2 separate regions of the Homo sapiens genome follow, and region 2 is linked to region 1. The links come from fine-mapping of genetic effects on gene expression. Tissue or cell type: whole blood. Region 1 holds a variant in brackets; the other region holds the start of a gene. All regions are shown on one strand. Distances are between the middles of the regions.

The links. PIP is the estimated chance that this variant, and not a neighbour inherited with it, causes the effect.
Region 2: MEG3 starts here. The variant in region 1 is fine-mapped to the expression of MEG3 in whole blood (TOPMed, PIP above 0.99).

Annotation. Positions count from the first base shown.
Region 1 is chr14:100,708,473-100,711,227 of GRCh38, reverse strand. It overlaps LOC105370669 (a long non-coding RNA gene), which reads right to left and starts at 2,161. Exons shown (of 2, transcript XR_944211.1): 1 at 2,091-2,161; 2 at 1,477-1,674. The variant C/G (reference allele first, on the strand shown) is at 1,353.
Region 2 is chr14:100,824,845-100,827,599 of GRCh38, reverse strand. MEG3 (maternally expressed 3) reads right to left here and starts at 1,482. Exons shown (of 10, transcript NR_190993.1): 1 at 1,383-1,482.

The DNA of each region.
Region 1 (2,755 bases):
CACATGAGTTTGCCAAATGCAGGGGAGGGGGAGGCCTTCCCGGCAGTAGGACAAGCTTGAGCCAGGGAAGGTTAGGGCGCCAGTGTGCCTGGCTATTCTGGGAGACGAGTCCAAGGCCCGGCAGAGTGAGGGGAGCAGCTGTCCCTGAGGAGGCCGAAGGTCGGCAGGGCTGCCCAGCTGGGGTCCTGAATGCCAGGCCGCTGGGCAATGTCTTTGGGGAGCCTCAGACAGGCTCTGAGAAGACGAAAGACAAGGTCAGAGCTTTAAAAAGCTGCAGTGCGGTCACTCTGGCGGCCACGACAGAAGCAAGAACACAAGACAGTGACGACCACACAGAGGTCATGGCTAGGCCAAGTGGAGCAGCAAGGAAGGCAGAAATGGGGGGCTGGGGACGTGGAGGAGGGGCAGGAGGAAGAAAGCCATGAGGAGAAGCCAGGAGGAGAAGCTCCCCAAAGCCTCACTCCCCTAGGCTCTTGTATAAAACAGGGAAAATTACGCTTGGAATATCTCCTACATCGTGAGGTTAACAAAAAGGAGTTGCAGAACAGTGTGTGTAAAACGAACTCATGTATGTAAAGTGAAAAAGAATATATACAAGATCCCCTTTCCTATTGATCTGTTTGCACATGCCTAGACGCTTCCGGGGATCACAGGAGAAACTGACTGGCGCTGGGCTTTGGGAGTGGCTGGGGAACCCCAACGGGAGGACTACCTGCTTTGCACTTCAAAAGAGAGGGCCATCTATTTTATAATTGAAACCACTTTTAACATAAAAAGAAACTGGCGGGGGCGCAGCGGTTCACGCATGTAATCCCAGCACTTTGGGAGGCCGAGGCAGGTGGATCCCCTGAGGTCAGGAGTTTGAGACCAGCCTGGCCAACATGAGGAAACCCCGTCTCTACTAAAAACCCAAAAATTATCCACACATGGTGGCCGGCACCTGTAATCCCAGCTACTTGGGATATTGAGGCAGGAGAATCGCTTGAACCCGGGAGGCGGAGGTTGCAGTGAGTTAAGATTGCACCACTGCACTCCAACCTGGGTGAAAGAGAGAGACTCCATCTCAAAAATAAATAAATTAATTAATTAAAATAAAATAAAATAAATTATAAAACGAACCGAAACAGGCAAACGGTTAGAGAAGGCCAGCATTTGTCTCAGGGGAAAGCACAGCCAGAGGGGATCGGGGAGGCTTCGCGGGGCTGGAAGGTTCCAGAAGGCTTGACTTTCCCCACCTGGTGGTCTACCCGGCCCGCAGTCCCAGCCCCATGTCCCCCCCACCCAGGGGCAGGACTCCCGCCCTGCGCGGCCCCAGCTCCCGCTCTCCGTGGCGAGCCCGCCGCGCCCCCTGC[C/G]GGCGCGCGTTGGGGAGGAGGGGCGGGACGCAGAGGCTGCGGCTGGGCTCCCGGGCAGGCGCCGGGCTTTCTCCCTGGGTTGTGTATGTTTCTTAAAAGAATGATACGTGTGGCAAAAAAAAGATAAGAGGGGAGCCATTATTAATGAGAACAGGTGAGGGGAGGATATTCATGATCGTTTCGAGCCTAATGAAGCCTGCCGAAGGTTCCCTCCGGAATGATGGATTCCGCGGGGCCGGGGCGCTCCCATCACTCTTGTCCTCGGAGCCGACTGTTCTCCCGGCTGCCTCCGCACAGCCCGCTCCGGAGGACAGGAGCGAGGCTGATAACAAATTTTGGGAACATAGAATTTCACACCTCATCGCACAGGCATTAAGACGACAATACAGCGGATGACTTCCTCCCGCTGGCCCGCCCCCTCAGCAAGGAAGGCCAGGCCAGGGGAGGCCTGGGGGCCGGCGGGGCCCCAGGGAGGAGGGTTGGGCTGGGGGGGCGCCCAGGGCTCGCAGAGCCCCTCAATTGTCCTCAGGCCCGGCAAGTGGAGGCGGGAGCGGTGACAGGGACAACGGGGATCTCTGTCCCACCCATCACTGGGATCGCAATTGCGTGGAGAGGGAAGGCCCCAGAGCCCACGGAGCCGCTCTCCCCGTCCAGGCCCCCGTGAGGCCCACTGCAGCCTAGCTCCTGCTCCTGACGTCGGTTCCCAGCAAGTTCAGCCAGGTGGCTGGCTGTTCTCACCCCTCCCGGGAGCTGCACAGACAGCTGCGTTAGACAGAACGCAGGCCACAGGGCCGGGCAGTGAAACTTCCCATCACCCGAGGCCGAGCCGGCCAAACGGCTCCCCTGGCGTCATAACGGCCAAGGCCGGGCCACCCTGGCTGGAGGGCGCACGGGAGGGGCGCAACGTGACGTTTGGGAGTACAGAGCCAGGGAGAGGGGGCCAAGTCAGGGGCCGCCGCACAGTATAGGACGTGAGGAAGGAGGAGCCCGCTGCCCCGCTCCCCTACCTCAGCGTCGGGTCTACCCTGCCCACCTTCACCATGTCACAGCAAGATGCGCCCCCTTTGGCCCAGCCCCCAGGTGACACACGGCCCGGAACTTTGACCCGCCTTGTGCAAATGTGAGCCTATTACCAGCACTGCCCTTGTTCCCAACATTTGGGGCACAGAGGGGTCCTTTTCTGTCCCCAGAGCCATCTTGAGTAGAATGAGGAGAAGAGGCGTTTCCAGGCCCTCCTGGCCCAGTTGCTCGCTGGCCCTCAGCTGCCAGGAAGGCGGACATTTGAGAAGGAGCAGGGAGGGTGTGGGGCAGGAGAGGGGTGGTGTCCCAGCCAAGGGCAGCAGGAGCCACCCAGAGGCCTTGGCCGGTAACTGACGCCAGCCCTCACCTGGAGGGCCAGGTGA
Region 2 (2,755 bases), 120 kb before region 1:
CATCCTGCTCAAATGAGCCACACCTTCCTAAGACCCCCGAAACCAAAAACCACTGGAAATCAACTAACGTGCCTCTGTGCGCCTCCACAACACCCGAAGCCACGGCGCAAAGGCCGACCCCGGCCTCTGCGGCCACTCCGCAGTGAATCCGGGGGGTCTCAAAACTGTTCCCTCTTGGGTAAACGAATCCAGGATCCTCCAGTAGATCCCGCGCCCGACCCCCTCCATCAGGAGAACAAAGGCCACCTCCCCTCCCCACCCCGCCCCCCAAAATTCCGCAGTGCCGCCAGCGCCCTCTCGCGGCCAGCCAGGAAACCTTCCAGAAACCTGCCACGTAGCCACCCGCCTGCGCCCCCACCAGGCCCGCCGGCCCAGGGTGGGAGGGGGCGGCCTGGGGGGGCTTGACTCTGACAAAGGAAATGGCAAAAGGCGATTTGACCAAAAGTCCAAGACTGCAACATGTCAGGATTTTCGAGCGACCACCACGCAACGCTCTGAAGACCCCCGCGGCACCCCATCCCCAGCTCCCAGCGTCCAGACCCCAGCAACACACCCCCTTTTCTGCATTTCTCTCCTCCCTCTTCCCAGACCCAAGGACACGGCCTTCTCTCCTCCCCAACCCACCCCCTGCATCTATTCTCCCAGTGCCCCCAATCCCACGACCCCCCTTCGGCAAGGACTGATCCTAGGGGGCTACTGGCAGGTTTGCACTTGGGCGCCATCTCTCTCCACTGTGAAAGTGGCTGATCAGGGCAGAACCAGATGATATCGGGTAGAAATTTTACTCCACATTTTGCCTGGGGTCCACACTGCACTAAACCTGTGTATTTGGATTCGGAAAACCTCGCGAAGAGGAACCTCCACTCCTCCCGCCCACGATCCACCAAAAACCTGGCCAACAGCTGGCGAGGCAAATATGCCCGGGAGACCCTTCTATTCGGGTGCTTCCCCCCCTAATTCATGGGGCACGCAGAAGGCATCGCCGCCATATCTCCCACTATTAACGCGATTCTAGAGGCGGCTTCTAATACAGGAAATCCGGGGTTCGCCCCCCAGTGACTGCCGTATACCCGAATCCAAGAGGAGTTCCATCTGATTCCTCCCGCTCCTCTGAACTGAAGTCCCTACCACCCAGCCCACCCTTAAGGACTGGACCCTCCAGAGAGGAGCCCTGACTTCCCCCCAGGGAAATGTGCCTCAAGATTTTCTTTCTGACAAATTTTGTTGCGGACGCTCGGGGACCAGGCGAAGTGGCCGCCTCCAGCAGCAGGACCCAGGATCAGGCAGGCTCTCGGCATGTCCAGGAGGACAGAGCCCATCCCAGAAGCGGATGCCGTCTTCCTTTTGCACATCCTTTGCGGCAAGGATGGCCAACCACTCACCGGGTGAGGGATCCTCTCGTGGGCGCCCCAGCTCTCCTGAGGAGCCGCCGCCAAGGCCAGCGAGCCAAGGCGCGCTCCCTCTCTGCTCTCCGCCGTCTGCGCTAGGGGCTGGCTGGGTGGGGTTTATATGGAGGCGCAGAAGGGGTGGTCTCTGACGTCAGCGCATTCTGCTGCAATGCGCTCATTTCTCTAAAAGTGATTGGCCGGAAAAATGAGCCCCCCAGATTCTATGACAAATTGCTCTAGCCGCACCCAGATTGCAGCAAAGAAGGGAGGAAAAAATTCTGCCGCAGTGCCCCTGGCCGCCATGACCAACACCCTGTGGTCGCGGGTGCTTTTTCCCTGCGTGAGCCCGGCTCGCCAGGCAGGGTGAATTCAGGCACAATGTGTGGGGGGAATCGCCCCGATGGCTGGCCGTCCTCAGGCGGCCGATGGCCAAGGTGGGGCTGTCGGGGCGCAGATCCCACACCTGGCGGTTTCGGAACATCCATCGGAGGATGCGGGCTTAGCGAAAGAAAATCATGCTTTCTCTTATTGTTCAGGAAAATAAAATGCCCGGGCGACATAACTGGTTCCCAGATGTAAGCCAGAGGCTGTCACCCCCTCCCAGCCCACCCGTGCGTTTCTGACTGGTTCTCTTTGACATGGGAGACAGAGCTCCGCGTCTCCGAGTCAGAAAACCCTGGCTGTGGAGTCCCGGGCTCTGCCGCTTACAACTCATGTTCGCGGAACCCGCTATGCCCCTTCCTCTTCCACTGGGTCCGCTTCCTCCACCTTAACCAGGGGTACCCCCCACCACACACACCAGGGTTGTAATAAGAATCCAGACAGGAGCCGTGCCCTCTAAGGAAAGTACTTTTAGAGGGCGGACTGTGTCCCATGTGGAGATGCCTGAGCTACCCCTCAAAGTTGGGGTGATCCCCACACACATGCCCTTTGAAAGAGCCCCAGCGCCCCGAAAAACAGGCAGCGACACATGTTGCGCCGAGCCCTGCCGCGGCCTCGGCTCCGGAGCTGGCACATGGGAGTTAATCCCTAACAGGTGGGAGCCCTCGGCAGCTCTGCCCGGCTCTGAGTGGCAGAGCGTGCAGGGCCGTCAATCAAATGTCCTCTCGCAAAGGTCAAAATGCTGTTGAAAGGGACCGAGGATCTATCTTAGGGTGACAGGTGGGTGGCAGCCAGGAGGACAAGGATGGAGTGCTCGGTGACAGAAAGCAGGTGAGGATGAGCAAGGGGCCCCAAAGAGGACAGCAGAGAGGCCCCGCCGAGGGCATCAAGTCAGAATCGCTCCCCCGCACTTCTTTGGGGGGTTTAAGCGGCGTCAGAGGGAGCCCCCCATGCCCAACGATCCCACAAGGTGACTGTAAAGCAGA